2 linked regions of the Homo sapiens genome follow. The protein of the gene in region 1 interacts with the protein of each later gene in a biochemical or structural test. Each region holds a gene or a part of one and is shown on either strand. Other genes may lie near its edges.

Region 1 (7,887 bases):
TCAGCCTTGGCTGGGCACAGTGGCTCATGCCTGTAATCCCAGCAATTTGGGAGGCCGAGGTGGCCGGATCACCTGAGGTCAGGAGTTCGAGACCAGTCTGGCCAACATGGTCTCTACTACAAACCCCATCTCTGCTACAAATACAAAAATTAGCCAGGCATGGTAGCAGATGCCTGTAATCCCAGCTACTCGGGAGGCTGAGGAAGGAGAATCACTTGAACTCGGGAGGCAGAGGTTGCAGTGAGCCGAGATTGCGCCACTGCACTCCAGCCTGGGCAACAGAGCAAGAGTCTATCTCAAAAAAAAAAAAAAAAAAAAAAGTTTCTCAGTCTTGGCACTGCCGACATCTGGGGCCAGATTATTCCACACGATGGGGCCATCCTGTGCACTACATGTAGGGGGTTGGGCAGCATCCCAGCCTCCACCCACCAGATGCTAGAAGCACTCCCTAATCATGATGACCCAAAATGTCTCCAGACATCACCAAGTGTCCCCTGGGGGGCAGAATCACCCCCTGCCCCAGAAAGAGAACAATGCTTTGTGTCTAAAAATCTAGTGTGAACTCACCTCTGCCCAGAGCCCATGCTCCCCTGACCCCAGGTGATGAGGAAGATGGGAAATGGTTTCCAGGGCTGAAAGAACTGCCACCTGCATATCTTCAGAATCTTGTTTTTGTTTTTGTTTTGAGATGGAGTCTCACTCTGTTGCCAAGGCTGGAGTACAGTGACACAATCTCAGCTCACTGCAACCTCCACTTCCCAGGTTCAAGCGATTCTTCTGTCTAAGCCTCCCGAGTAGCTGGGATTACAGGCATGTGCCACCACACCCGACTAATTTTTGTATTTTTAGTGGAGACGGGTTTCACCATGTTGGCCAGGCTGGTCTCGAACTCCTGACCTCAGGTCATCCACTCACCTTGGCCTCCCAAAGTGCTGGGATTACAAGTGTGAGCCACTGCACTTGGCCTCAGAATTTTTCTAAATTCATTGACTGATGAATGGATAAACAAATACAATATATCCATACAACGGAATATTACTTGACCCTAAAAAGGAACGAAGCACTGATCCATGATACTACAGAGATGAACCTTGAAAACATGACGCTGAGTGAAAGATGCCAGTCACAAAAGGCCACGTGTTGTGTGATTCCATTTATATAAAATGCCCAGAATAGGAAAACCCACAGAGACAGAAGACAGCTTAGTGCTTGCCAGGGGCTAGGGGAGGGGGAATGGGGAGTGACTGTTAATGGGGACGGGGTTTCTTTCTGGGTGGATAAAAAATGTTCTGGAATTACAAAATAGGGGTGGTTGCACAACTCTGTGAATATACTAAAAACCACCAAACTGTACACTTTAAACAAGTAAATTGTATGATGTGTGAATCATATCTCAATAAAGCTATTATTTTAAAGAGATGTTTTCAACAACAATAATCTATTTCCAATCCCACGCAGAAACTGGACTTCTAATCAGAATGACACCCATGAACCTACTGTGACCCCTTTCTTCCGGTCACACTGCAAACATTTGACAACAACTGCATGCCAGCACACACCATGTGCTGGAGACAAAAAGAAGTGGCCACTCCTGCCTCAGAAGCCCTGATATGTGGGGGACACTCACGTGGAAGGATGCTCAAGTTGCACACTTTCTTCTTATTTTCTTTTTTTGAAATGGAGTTTCACTCTTGTCACCCAGGCTGGAGTACAGTAACATGATCTCGGCTCACTGCAACCTCCACCTCCCAGGTTCAAGTGATTCTCCCACCTCAACCTCCCCAGTAGCTGGGATTACAGGTAGCTACCACCACGTCCGGCTAATTTTTATATTTTTAGTACAGACAGGGTTTCACCACGTTGGCCAGGCTGGTCTCGAACTCCTAACCTCAGGTGATCCACTGCCTCAGCCTTCCAAAGTGCTGGGATTACAGGCATGAGCCACCACACCTGGCCATTTTCTTATTTTTTTTTCATTCATTCATTCACCAGCCATCTCTTTCTCTACATCCTGAGCAAGAATGTAGCTGCTTGGAGCTGGGAGGACAGATGTGGCACACTCACCGAGCATGCCTAAAGCAGTACCTGGGTGACAGTGAGCTCCCAATCATTACCAACACAGAAATGAAGACACAAATCCTAGTCTATAAGGTCACAATCTCTCAGAGAAACAAACAACTAGTTACAAAGTAACACAGACTGAAAGTGCTACCTAAGGAATCAGAGACTGAGGTTAAGTCTACCTGAGCCAGTCACATCAGTGGCTGAATCTGGAAACCAGGGATACGAGCATCTGCAAAGCCCACCCAAACCCTCCCCAAGGCCCCAGGATGCAGGAGAGAGGTCTCACCACACTGCAAGAACAAAGTGGAGATTCAGCATCACCTTTGCAGAGTGTGCTCACCACCCTGCCCCAAGAGGAAGGTCTTGCTAGAATGCCTGACAAGAAACTGAGGCCTGAGGAACTCGGGTGCCTTGCCGTGCTCAGACACCAGCCCCAAGCCCCTGCTCCTGGCCCACAGCAACTTCCCAGGTGAGATTTGCAGGGTATCTGCTCTGCCAGACAGGAGCCTGGCAGAACCTGGCCTGCCCCTGCACACCAAATGCGCCCAGCCACCTGAGGCAGACCTGGCCCTCCACCCTGGTCCTGAGAGGGCAGGGGCTGTGGTCAGCATCCCCTGTTCCACTGGGAGGAACATCACCTGGCCCCCACCATATGGGCTACATGGAGAAGGGGCAGCTGTCTCCACTCCAAGTTCCAGGACTGAGCACAATCTGCCTTCTTGGCCCCCCTCTGGACCCCCTGGGGGACAGGATCTGACCATTCCCTCAGCTGTCCAAGAGGGAGAGATCCCTGTCCCACCTCAGCTCTGCAAGTGGGGACATCCGTTCCTCCCCCAACACCCAGGGAGTAAAGGCACAGGTAACCATGACGTAGAGACACCGGTCCCCCTCAGGTAGCAAGAATGGGAGGGCATCTGTCCCTCCCAGGTAGCAAGGATGCGGGGGCACTTGCACCCTCACCCCCAGCTACCAATGGTGCTTGCAAGCAGCACCCAGCTCATACACCTGTGTCATCCTGCCCCCCCAGGTAGCAATGATGCGGGGGCACCTGTCCCTTCCAGGTAGTAATAATGTGGGGCACCTGTCCCCCTCGGGTAACAATGATGTAGGGACACCTGTCCCCTGTCAGGTAACGACGAGGTACTAGCACCTGTTCCCTCCTAGTAGTAATGATATAGAGGCCCCTGTCTCCTCCGGGGAGCAGTGATGCAGGGCACCTGTACCCCATCAGGTATGGATTTTGTGGGGTCACCTGTCCCGCCCACGACGCCCGGGGCGTGGGGACACCTGTCCCCCTCGGGCCGTGCCAAGCCCCGCCCCCGCCGCGCGCGCCCCGCCCCCGCCGCGCCCCCCCCCACCCCGCCCCGTGCACGCGCCGGACACGCGCCCCCTCCCTCCCTCCGCCGGCCCTGAAGGGTCGGCGCGGGCAGCCCCCTTACCCGCGCGGCCCGCGTCAGGCTCAGGTCCTTCATGACCTCCTCGAAGGCCGCCGTCTCCTCCGCCTGCTTCTGATTGTGCAGCGCGATCTTCTCGCTGAATTTCCGCGGATTGTTCGAAGTCGCCATCTTCTCGCCGCCACCTCCTCCTCCTCCTCCTCCTCCTCCACCTCCTCGCCCCCCCACTCGCCCGTGCCACCGCGCAAGCGCCGGCTGGGCCCACGGGCGGCGAGCAGTGCGCAGGCGCGCCGGCGGTCGTGAGCGCGGCGCAGGCGCACAGGAGCGGCGCGCGGCGCGGGGGCGAAGGCGCATGCGCGCGCCCAGGCGCGCGCTCGGGGCCCGCGGGAAGGGCGGTGGAGCGCGAGTGGAAATTTCAACGCCGACGCAGTGATCCGCCTCCTGGCCCGCTGGACAGCGGCCTCTGGGCTGTTGGACAAGGACCGCGGATCGGCTGGGGCACTGGAGCCCCCAAGAGGGAGACGGCCTGACCCAGATCCTCCCAATTCACAAGGGTGGGGCCAGGCACCCCCCCCCGCAAGGATTGGTGGCACCCCAAGTTGAACCTGGGTTTGGACTAAGAGCTCTGAAAACAGACTAGGGCGTTGGTCACTCATGCATTCATTCATTCAAGGAATATTTACTGAGCACCTACTATGTGCCAGGCAAACTGGAGTACAGGCGTGAACAAGCAGAGGTGATCCCTGCCCTTATGGAGTGTACAGTCAGAGAGGGGGCAGACATAGCACACAAATAACCAAGAACTTTTCAGATGGAGGTAAATGTGATGCGGTAAATAAGACCAGTGGCCAGCCACAGAACATTAGGGAGGGAGGCTCCTGCAGCCACCACAGACAGGGAGGCGGAAAGTTATCTTAGCTAAGACCTGAACCCTGCAATCGGCTCTCTCAGTCCATAAACCTAGCTGTTGCCCTTAACGACTTTCTTTTTTTTTTTTTTTTTTCCCTTGAGACCGAGTTTTGCCCTTGTCGCCCAGACTGGAATGCAGTGGTGCGATCTCGGCTCACTGCAACCTCCTCCTCCCAGGTTCAAGCCATTCTCCTGCCTCAGCCTCTCCAGTAGCTAGGATTACAGGCAGGCGCCACCACGCCCAGCTAATTTTTTTATTTTCAGTAGAGACTAAAGACCATGTTGGCCAGGCTGGTCTTGAACTCCTGACAGCAGGTGATCCACCCGCCTCGCCCTCCCTAAGTGCTGGGATTACAGGCGTGAGCCACCATGTCCAGCCGACGACTACTTTTTCCCATTCCCTTGCAATGGGCATATTGCTATTCTCTGGATACCTGAGCCCAAAGAACTGGAGTTACAGAGCTTCAGCCTTCCCTCTGCATACTTCTCCAGTCCAGTCTTGTTCAAGGATCTCTATTTTGCAACAAGGTGCTAACAGAAGGGTCCAGAAATCCCATCAAGACTCAGCAGTGAAGGAAGGAGCAGAGACTCCCCCGATGGCAGAGTGGTAAGCCAGGGAAGCAGGAGGGACTCTAACCCTCCCTCCCTCAAGAGAGGGACCCCCAACCACCAATATTGAAAGTTTATATTCAGGAGGCTGCAGGGATTTCAGAGTATGGGCTGGGTGGAAGCTAGGAAGGTCAGCTGGGGGAATTGATGATGGCTCTAATGGCACAACAAGCACACATTTTATTGGACTGAGGATGGCTGGAGGGGATGCTGACATCTTCCAAACATGCTTTGATTCATGCTTTACAACAGGTAATAAAATGCTCATGTTAAATATATATATATATATATCGATTTTCATTTAGAATGCCTTGGATATTGCCACTGCCCTACTTTATCTTTGTTTTGAGACAGAGTCTCACTCTGTCGCCCAGGCTAGAGTGCAGTGGCGCAACCTTGGCTCACTGCAATCTCTGCCTCTCAGGTTCAAGCGATTCTCCTACCTCAGCCTCCCAAGTAGCTGGGATTACAGGCATGCACCATGATGCTCAGCTAATTTTTATGGGATTTTTTTTTTTTTTTTTTTTTTGAGACGGAGTCTCTGTTTCCCAGGCTGGAGTGCAGTGGCACAGACTCAGCTCACTGCAACCTCTGCCTCTGGGGTTTAAGTGATTCTCCTGCCTCAGCCTCCCAAGTAGCTGGAATTACAGGAACCCACCACCACACCCGGCTACTTTTTGTATTTTTAGTAGAGACAGGGTTTCACCGTGTTGGCCAGGCTGGTCTTGAACTTCTGACCTCAGGTGATCCGCCCGCCTCAGCCTCCCAAAGTGCTGGGATTACAGACATGAGCCACCGCACCCGGCCATCTTCCTTCTTGATATGATTTTGCGCACTTTGGTAAGCTCCTATACTTTTTGCCTAACAAGCATATTCCTTCTCTCAACCCCACCCACTCCCTCAACTTTTTAGTGTCAACAACCCTTATTTGGGGAACACTGGTTCTGACTTTCAGTCTGTGAGATGTGAATGGCTGGTCTCACCACTCTCCCACCACACAAACACCCCTCCCTAAGGTGGAAGTCTTGGCCAATCAGCATAGCCCATTGTGCTGGCCATCAAGATTGGTTCAGGCCAGGCTGGGTGTTGTGGCTCATGCCTGTAATCCCAGAACTTGGGAGGCCGAGGCAGGAGGATCATTTGAGCCCAGGAGCTTGAGACCAGCCTGGGCAACATAGCGAGATTTAATCTCCACTAAAAATAAAAAAATTACCTGCGCGTGGTGATGCCTGCTTATAATCCCAGCTACTCAGGAGGCTGAGACAGGAGGATTGCTTGAGCCTGGGAGATGGAGGCTGCAGTGAGCTATGATAATGCACTGCACTCCAGCCTGGGTGACAGAGCAAGACCCTGTCTCAAACAAACAAACAAACAAACAAACAAAAAACAGGCTGGGCGCTGGGTCATGACTGTAATCCCTACACTTTTGGAGGCAGAGGCGGGCAGAACACCTGAGGTCAGGAGTTTGAGACCAGACTGGCCAACATGGTGAAACCCCATCTCGACTAAAAATACAAAAAAAATTAGCCAGACGCGGTGGCACACGCCTGTAATTCCAGCTGCTGGGGAGGCTGAGGCAGGAAAATCACTTGAACCCAGGAGGTGGAGGTTGCAGTGAGCCAAGATAGCGCCACTTCACTCTAGCCTGGGCAACAGAGGGAGACTTTGTCTCAAAAAAAAACAAAAGATTAGTTCAGCTGGGCCAAAAGAGTGGACCCACACAGAGGAAAACAGAACCAGGCCTGGCACGGTGGCTCACAACTGTAATCCCAGCACTTTGGGAGGCCAAGGTGGGTGGATCACTTGAGGTCAGGAGCTTGAGACCAGCCTGACCAACATAGGGAAACTCCATCTCTACTAAAAATACAAAATTAGCTGGGCATGGTGGCACATGCCTCTAATCCCAGCTACTTGGGAGGCTGAGGCAGGAGAACAGCTTGAATCCAGGAGGCAGAGGTTGCAGTGAGCCGAGATCACATTACTGTACTCCAGCCTGAGCTTCTGGATCCAGCCATTCCTGAAGCTAGACTCACCTGCCTTTTAAGTTATGTAGGCCAAAAATTTATTCCCTTTTGTGCTTGTCTATTTGTTTTCTTGTTTGTTTGTTTGTTTGTTTTTTCAGACAGGGTCTCACTTTGTTGCCCAGGCTGGAGTGCAGTGGCATGATCATGCTCACTGAAGCCCCAACCCTTAGGCTCAGGTGATCCCCCCACCTCAGCCTTCCAGGTAGCTGGGACTACAGGTGTGCATCATCATGCCTGGCTAATGTTTTGTGGTTTTTGTAGAGACAGGATTCATCCTGTTGCTCAGGCTGGTCTCAAACTCCTGGGCTCAAGTGATCCGCCCCCCTCAGCCTCCCAAAGTGCTGAGATTACATGTGTGCACCACCGTGCCTGGCCTGCCTAAATCTATTTCAAGTCCTTTTTCTGTTCCTGGTTCTGACTGAGACTGCAGCTTCTGTGAGTCCAATGCGAGACTGGGCCCGCTACATATGTGGCTTCTAGTTCTTTTTTTTTTTTTTTTTTTTTTTAAACAGAGTCTCGCTAGGTCTCCCAGGCTAGAGTGCAGTGGTACGATCTTGGCTCACTGCAACCTCCGCCTCCCAGGTTCAAGTGATTCTCCTGCATCAGCCTCCAGAGTACCTGGGACTACAAGCGTGCGCCACTACGCCCAGCTAATTTTTGTATTTTTAGTAGAGATGGGGTTTCACCATGTTGGCCAGGCTGGTCTCGAACTCCTGACCTCAGATGATACTCCCACCTTGGCATCCCAAAGTGCTGGGGTTATAGGCGTGAGCCACCACGCCTGACCGGCTTCTAGTTCTTGACAGCATCCTGTGAGGTCAGAGAAGAAATAAAGACAGAGAGCAGGGACAGCAGCTGCCCTAGCAACTTATGCACCAAAACTCAGG
Region 2 (7,854 bases), on another chromosome or scaffold:
AAGTGAGTGGAACTGGAAACACTCAGCATTTCTAACAGTTTTGAAAACACATGGGGTACTGTAGTAACCATTCTTGCAGAACTCAAGTAGATCCTTCTGGAAAGTTTGCCAACCATTGAGTGGGAATTATCAATGGACTGCAAAGCAAAGGTTAAGAGGGACAGCAGCTTCTTATACCTGAAAGAAAAAAACATTCATTACCATATAAGTTCCAATTACTGAAAAATACATGGAAACTTAAAAAATGGTAGTAATTTACAGCATGTATACTTCAAAAACCATTTCAGCATAAAGTATCTATGAATTTTTAATTAAAGAGCCCAGACTTTGGGTTTTCATATGTCAATCAAATATTAAGGTATCAGCAACCTATTCATGCTCTGAGTCTTTCAAAAATCTAAAATGTGTCATTCTTGAGGAGGGTGTAGGGAGGGTAGGAAGATACAAGTAATACATTTTCAGAAGAAAAATTACCTGATTTCAACAGGCTCAGCTTGTGAAACATCAGTACTGACAATATGAGGATAAAATTCAGCAGGAAATTCCAACAACAGTCTATCTATAAGACAAAGGCGGCCAAGAAGTTCTTGCCAATTGTTTGATTCAGTTTGGTTTCCAAGAATACAATTTAAGACATAATCAACACCACCAATACCAATGGATCCTACAAAAAGGAAAGTAAAAATAAATGATTAAAAAATAGTGATATTAAAATCTAAAACAAGACATGATTAAATGGTGTAAGGCCAACAAAAATATTCTGAACTATTTTAAAGAATTTCTCTCTCAGAGTAATTCACATTTCTAACTGTAACACAGTGAATCAATTTATAAAATTACTTCAAAATCCTGTAAACTGCCTCATGAGAGATTATGAGATTAGACAAGGCTGCTCAGGAACATGATAAAATATGCTATATTCCTTTTAAGTGAAAAGTTATTACCAGCTTTTAGTATTTCTCTGCCAACTGCCAACTCTCCTGCTTGGCCTTTGCACAGTTCCAACAGTGTTGATATGGACAGCTGACTTGTGCGGCTAAAAACAAAGGAAAAGCAACATCAATCCTGGATCTTGGCTAAAACACTATACAATATTAGAGGAGTAATGTAATGCCTTGTGAAAAAGTGGAGAAATAATGTTTTCAGGAGTGTTTACTTTTCCACCACTAAAATCATATTAACAATGTCACCATAAGTAGTAATATTCATTTATTAGGTCTAATTTCGTAAATTTAACATATCCCCTATGTTAAGCACAGAATTTTCAACAATGGCTCTTTGCAAGTACTGATTTAAATACCAAATCAGATAAAAGTCTTATATTTTGTTAAAAGAAAAAACAAGGACCTTGATATTTTGATTTCTGAACTTTCACTAAGAAGCTCTTGAATTAAAAACAAAACCTTCCTATCCAAAAACCCTCCATTTCCTTACATAGCCAAAATGAGGTCTGAATATTATAAAATCTCTCTACAGTATTTCTTATGTTCAGTCATTCAGGTGACCAGGTAAACAACCTAAGTTTGGAGTTTCAAAAAGTGAGCAGCATAACAAATACCATGAGAACACTGAATTCTCAGAAATATACCTATTCTAATATTTAAAAATGACATTTTTCCTATGCATTTTGCAAATTACTTGTTAATTTGCAATATTTTACAGATATACAATGTTTTCTCTAAGCAACAAGGAAACATCCAATATTTTCAATCTATAGAGAAAACAATAGAGGCAAAAGACAGACTTCATGATATGAGAAATTCGTTAAAGGTAGGTACCTAATTTTTGAGATCCTGTGCAAACTAAGTCATTATGACTTGCAGAGGAAGAGAAAGGTTGTACTGAGAGAACTCTAAATGGGTGAAATGGAAGAGGCAACAGAAGGGAGATTCAACACTTCTTGCTAACCAAGATCTGCTGGGATAGAAAGAAATAGGAACTACCAAATAACTGTTCACAGTAGCTGTGATTATTAAATGAAAATTGATCTTTTCCTCCTATTTTATGGAAGGGGAAAATAAAAGAGAACCATTGGTCTGAAAAAAGCATGGCTTGTACTCATCTTTACTGTCATTGTACCTCAATTCTCTACTTCATATTTTTCTTTCCAGTTAGGGTTATTCTTGTTCCCTGTCAATTTTTAAGGATATTGCAGGAATATAAAAAATCTAAAAATTTTTTGACAAAACTGTCATAAGTAGAGTAAAATTCCACTACACTGAAAATGAGATGGATTTGTTAATTTTTTATCCTGATAATAAGGCATATGCAGGTGTAATGATCTTACTGGTTCCTATTCTGTGTAACCCATACTCTAATATGAGATTATAACTTATAGATATAAATGTCAACTACTGTTCTTATCGACTGGTCTTCAGATTATGAATGTTACTAAAGAGAGTAAATCACAATACAATAATGTGGAGATCCATGCAGTTTGTTTGCCTGGCTTTTACTTGCCAGTAGTTCTTTCCGCCAGTCCTTAAGAGCTTTATGCTGCATTTTCATTTTAAATCTCACATTAAAAGACAATGTTCAAAGACTCATTTAATAAAATGTATCAGATATTCACACTAGGTGTGAGGCTTGCTGCGAGGCACTTTTAAGACAAGAGGGTTTGAAGTGATTCATCAATAAAGCCTTACCTATTGGCATCTGCACATTTGACTAGGATGGTGTCTACAACTGGCTGGAGAAGTCTCTGAAGTTTGATTCTTTCCGCTAAACTGTGGCAAGGAGTATATACCAGCATGGCTCTCAATGTTTTCTAAGGAAAAAAATCTGAAGGTCAGTTTATGTACACTTAAAAAGCATCAGAGATAATGGCCTAATTTGAGACAATTTGAGCAACAAAATAAGTAGACAGGAATGGATTATAACCCATAGAATAAAATAAGAATTCCATGCTTCTGTAATAATACAACTAACTAACAAAATAAATGAATGGGGCAGGAAGGAATTTTCTGAACTCTTTTCTCTGCAATTTTTAAAAGTCTGAATTCATTTCAAGATGAAAAGTTAAAAAAAATTATTTTAAAAAAGAAAATGAGAACAGGCGCCAACCTGAAAGAGCTCCCAATGGTCAAGGCTGGAATAATTAGAGCAACAAAACAAATGATGGTAGTACTGGGTTGCAACCCACAGAACAAAATGAATACCCAGGAGCCTACACCAATACAAATTAAAAATTGAATAGGTATATAAACAGAGAAGCTCTTCTTTATAGAATAATTCCAATTAATTAATGTAGAAGGAATGAGGAAAATAGAAAATCACCACTAGAACACCATTTTTTAAATTATACTTTAGTTGTGGGGTACATGTGCAGAACGTGCAGGTTTGTTACATAGGTACACACATGCCATGGTGGTTTGCTGCATCCATCGACCCGTCATCTACATTAGGTATTTCTTGTAATGCTATCCCTCCTCTACCTCCCGACCCCCGACAGACTCCAGTGTGTGATGCTCCCCTCCCTGTGCCCAAGAGAGCACCATTTTTAATGGTGTAGTAATAACTGCTATAGGCAAGATCCACAAATGCTTTTAAAATCAGTGGACAAAATTTTGAGGTGAAATAGGGTATTTGCATAATCTCAAAGTAACTCTCACAAGATATTTAGGAATATTAACTTTACAGCAGGGAAACTTGGTAGACATTACCTTAACTGACAGCATCACCAATAATAAAAGCCATGGGCATATGTACCCACTGATATGATGCACTAAGAAAGGCCTGTCACCTCTGTGGCGTTCTTGTGAAAAATACGTAACTTCCATCTAATCATGAGAAAACATCAGATAAACCCAAATTGAGGGATATTCTACAAAATAACTGGCCAGTAAACTTTGAAAGTATCTGTCAAGGTCATTAAAAACCAGGAAAGGCTGAGGAACTGTCATGGATGAGAAGACATTAAGGGGACATGGTGACTAAATGCACTGTGGGATCCTGGATTGGATCCTGGAACAGAAAAAAGACAACAGCAGAAAAACTGGTGAAATCTGAATAAAGTCTGCAGTTTAGCTATGAAGGGCACTGTTGGGCAACTGAAGAGATTTGAGTATGAACTTTATAGTACAAAACAGTATTGTGATTAATGTTAATGTGCTGACTGTATATGGAAGAATAAATGGAATTATGTATTTGGTTTTAAGAGACACATATTTAAGTGTCATGATGCTGCAAAAAACTCTCAAACGATTCAGCAAAAAAAAAAAAAAAAATTATATATGCAGAGGGAGGGAGAGGAAAAAAAGGAAGAGACAGAGGAAGGGGAGATAAGAGAAAGGGAAAGGGTGAGCCTTAACAGCAGGAGCCATTTCTGCCTCCATGGAGCCTGGTATCCTTTATACAATCTTTGTGCTCTAGGATCTCATAAGCTAGTTGGGAAACAGTCTGAACTTAAGAAGAAACAACCACAACAGTAAGGCAGTTACGGTGTGTACAAAAAGAGTAACACAGCAAAGGCTTTGCAGAAAAGGAACTAGCAAAAAGAGGATTTTATTTAGTCAAGTATGCCTGAAGGTTTGTGTTGGAAAATACTAAGTAAGAGGCAAAATATTGGGCCAATTGGTCTTTATTCTATAGTATGCTGGTCCCTCCAGATGCTACATGAAAAAACAAGGTGTAGCAAAATAACTCTGGGAAACAATGCATTCTATCCTTTGATCCTTTAGGTTCACAATGTACATTAGCTTACTGAAGGATCCTAGAAGCCTTTCAGTCAACAGACCTAGTTATCCTTGTGTAATCCAGTGTTCACCAATCTTAACTGAATACGGGATTCTTTCTTCAGGGAACTTTTCACAACCCTGCCAAACTTCCACAGAATATGCTTTAGGAATGTCAAAGAAACAGAAACCTCTAAAGGTTTCTAAATGATTTGGGGGATAATCCAAGTTGTGTTTAAGAAATAATGATAACTATTATATAATATTAAATGTTCTTACAATGTGCCAGGCATATGGTTGAAAGTTTCTACATAATCTAATTTCAAACCTAAAAGGTATTTTCATTATTTTATGGGTGAGAAAACTGAAGTTTATTTAAGAGAGGTTAAGTAACCTTCATAAAGCCATCGTGCTAGTAAAAGGGAGAACCAGAATTTGAATCCAGGTCTGTCTCTATGATCTTGATCATGTGTTCAGATTGCCTAGGCTAGTCCAACTTTAACCAGCACATTATGCAAGCATTGTGGTTGGAATGATAAATTATGAGATCACTCAATTGTGACTCCAAACCCATGTTCGTAACTGTCATGCTGTATTACCTGTCAAGAAGATTCATTAGGCCCAATCGGTAGAGGATGCATTAGAAAAAGACTGAGGGAGGAAGCCTACAGACTGCTCATGAATTTTAAGAACAGACTAGATAAGAATTAAAGTAGTGATTCTGAATTGGGGGCAGTTTTGACCACTGGAGACATTTGGCAATGCCTGGAGACATTCTTGGTTGTCATAACTGGGGGCATGATCGGGTGGGGGTGGGTTTGCTCCTGGTATCTAATGGGTAGAGGCCAGAGATGCTGCCACAGTACACACATGACAACATCCCTGGCCCTCCCCCCACCCTCCAACAAATAATTATCTAACAAATGTTAATAGTACTGAGGCTGAGAAGCCCTAAAGAGACATATACGCAGAATGGAGAAAGTCCAGTTAGTCTCCTAAATTACCTCCTTGTCACTCTATTCCACCCATGAAAGAACTTTTAACAGGTTAAACTGGAAAACAACTCAATGATCTATGTCATGGAACCCTTTTCTTTGAAAAGGCTTTTGAATCTCCACATGACAATGTTTATTAAAAATCAATCAAAATGTTTATTAAAAACATATCTTCCTTAATATCTGATAAATTTTTTAAAAAATCAGAATAACGTTGATGACTCTGCCATCCCAAAAAGCATTTTTAATTTGGTCATGTATAAGGTATCTGCTCAGAAAAATGTACAGATATGAACAGCAAGACATTAAAAAAATCTTTAAAAATTAGCAAGCTTGTCTAGCTCACCCTATTTGTTGTTGTTCTGTTTTGTTTTGTTTTGTTTTAGGCTTTAGCAGCCTGAAGCCATGGTTTTTAGTCTGTCTCTAGTGGTAAGTGGAAAAGGAGGATGAGGAAGGAGCTTTACTGGCCCAAACAGAAACTAAGAAACCATGACTATATTCTCTCCCTTGGATACCCCTGCAAAGCCTTTAAAACAATGAAACTAAAAAGTAAAACAGTTATATAAGAAACCTTGGACATCATAAAAATCAGTAAAATTCAAATAAACAAAACAAAAGCTGTAATTTCCTGGAATTATGGAATAAAAATAAAATTTGGATTTTCCAAAATTAGGTAAAGTAGCTTTATTGTATCTTAAAAACACTATCTACGAACCATCAAAAAACCCCAAACCCATAATGATATGATTATGGAATAAAGCTACTTACTAAAGCAGCAACGTACACTTTGTAGACAGGGTCAGCACAGACCATTGACAGAACGCTGCAGCATGCCTCCACCACATCTCCTGAGATACTGGTCTGGGAAGACCCACTGGTGGCTCCCCCACTCGGGCTGCTTCCACTGCTGCCCCCAGAATTTCCAGTGCTCTCCCCATTTGCCAACAGCAGGGCCCCACTGACATCATGGGAAAGACGCCTGAGGGCCATCTCTCTCACATTCCAGTTTCTAGAAAATAAGCAGCCAACGAGTTCCATTCCAAACACCTGTATCAAACACACACGATGAATTCAATGTAAAGAAAAGCTTATGGACCCAGAGCATTTTGAGTTTAGCATCATTTTTGATTACTACGTAAAAACTGGACATTTCTGAAATCTTTACCATCCTTCACAACTTCAAATATATCCAGCCACTTAAGCATCATAAGGAAGAATTTTATACTCAAGTTTAACTGATAATTATCCAAAGTCATTAATATTTATTAGCTCAGGTAAAATTAATAATAAGCTCCATTAAGTCACTAGATGGCTATACATACATTCTATGCCTCTACTGTCCCACATGCTTACCAAAACGCCAAAAAACTGTGAAAACCTCAACTCTGTATTCATATTAAGGTAGTTTAAAGAGAAAAACTGGAGCAAGATTAAGAAAACAAACAAACAAACAAAAAACAAATCAAAAAAAGCACCAGGAGAAGGTTTCAAGAGATATAGAGTATTTCTCTTACAGACAAGAGCAATAAGCAAAACACATTTAATTGGTTTTTGTCTGTATAAAAAGGTTTAAAAAACTAGACAAAACAGGTAGGACTGTAAAACGAATGGAGTGGACAAATCAAACAACTGAAGAAAAAATGCTTGTGTTCGAGTAAGCAAAGGATAAATGTAGACGTAGAATTATAGTATATGCTGTTATCGTCGTCAATACCATGCCCCAAAAGCCAGAGTCCCTACAGTGAGGAAAGGGTGAATGGTCTTGACATTATGGGCCAATTAGCTAAAAGTAAGCTTAATACCTAAGATAATTCATTATGTGAAAAATGCCTAAATATTAAAGATGAATAAACACAACTTTTGAAAAACAGATCATAACATACTTATTTACATATGTTTTGTTATAAAGGGATATTATGGGAGAATGAACCAACTAGAATATAGTGAGCTTCTGGTACTGTTAAGTAGTGTACCACTACCTATGTTTTAACTGTCTTACCTAACATGCTTAATAAAAAGCTAGGAATGTAGAGCCTAGTCTGACCTAAAGCTTAGGCAAAACAAACTAGACCATATGCTTGAAAGAATGAACTCTAACAGCTCAGAATCAACTTGAGAGTTCTTTGATGGGTCATGAAAGGGCAGGTGAGGGCCTATGTTCATTAATAGTTCATTAAATTTCATTA

What was found.
Region 2: of the proteins of CRTC1 (region 1) and MAP3K1, one has a biochemical effect on the other in vitro, tested with the Homo sapiens proteins (one study listed by BioGRID).

The regions. Positions count from the first base shown.
Region 1 is NC_000019.10:18,679,445-18,687,331, reverse strand, and holds the start of CRTC1 (CREB-regulated transcription coactivator 1), read right to left. Parts: upstream 3,653-7,887; 5' UTR 3,630-3,652; coding exon 3,504-3,629; intron 1-3,503. UniProt on the Homo sapiens protein: Transcriptional coactivator for CREB1 which activates transcription through both consensus and variant cAMP response element (CRE) sites.
Region 2 is NC_000005.10:56,873,893-56,881,746, reverse strand, and holds part of MAP3K1 (mitogen-activated protein kinase kinase kinase 1), read right to left. Parts: intron 6,716-7,854; coding exon 6,437-6,715; intron 2,768-6,436; coding exon 2,646-2,767; intron 1,037-2,645; coding exon 945-1,036; intron 665-944; coding exon 475-664; intron 178-474; coding exon 1-177. UniProt on the Homo sapiens protein: Component of a protein kinase signal transduction cascade. Activates the ERK and JNK kinase pathways by phosphorylation of MAP2K1 and MAP2K4. May phosphorylate the MAPK8/JNK1 kinase.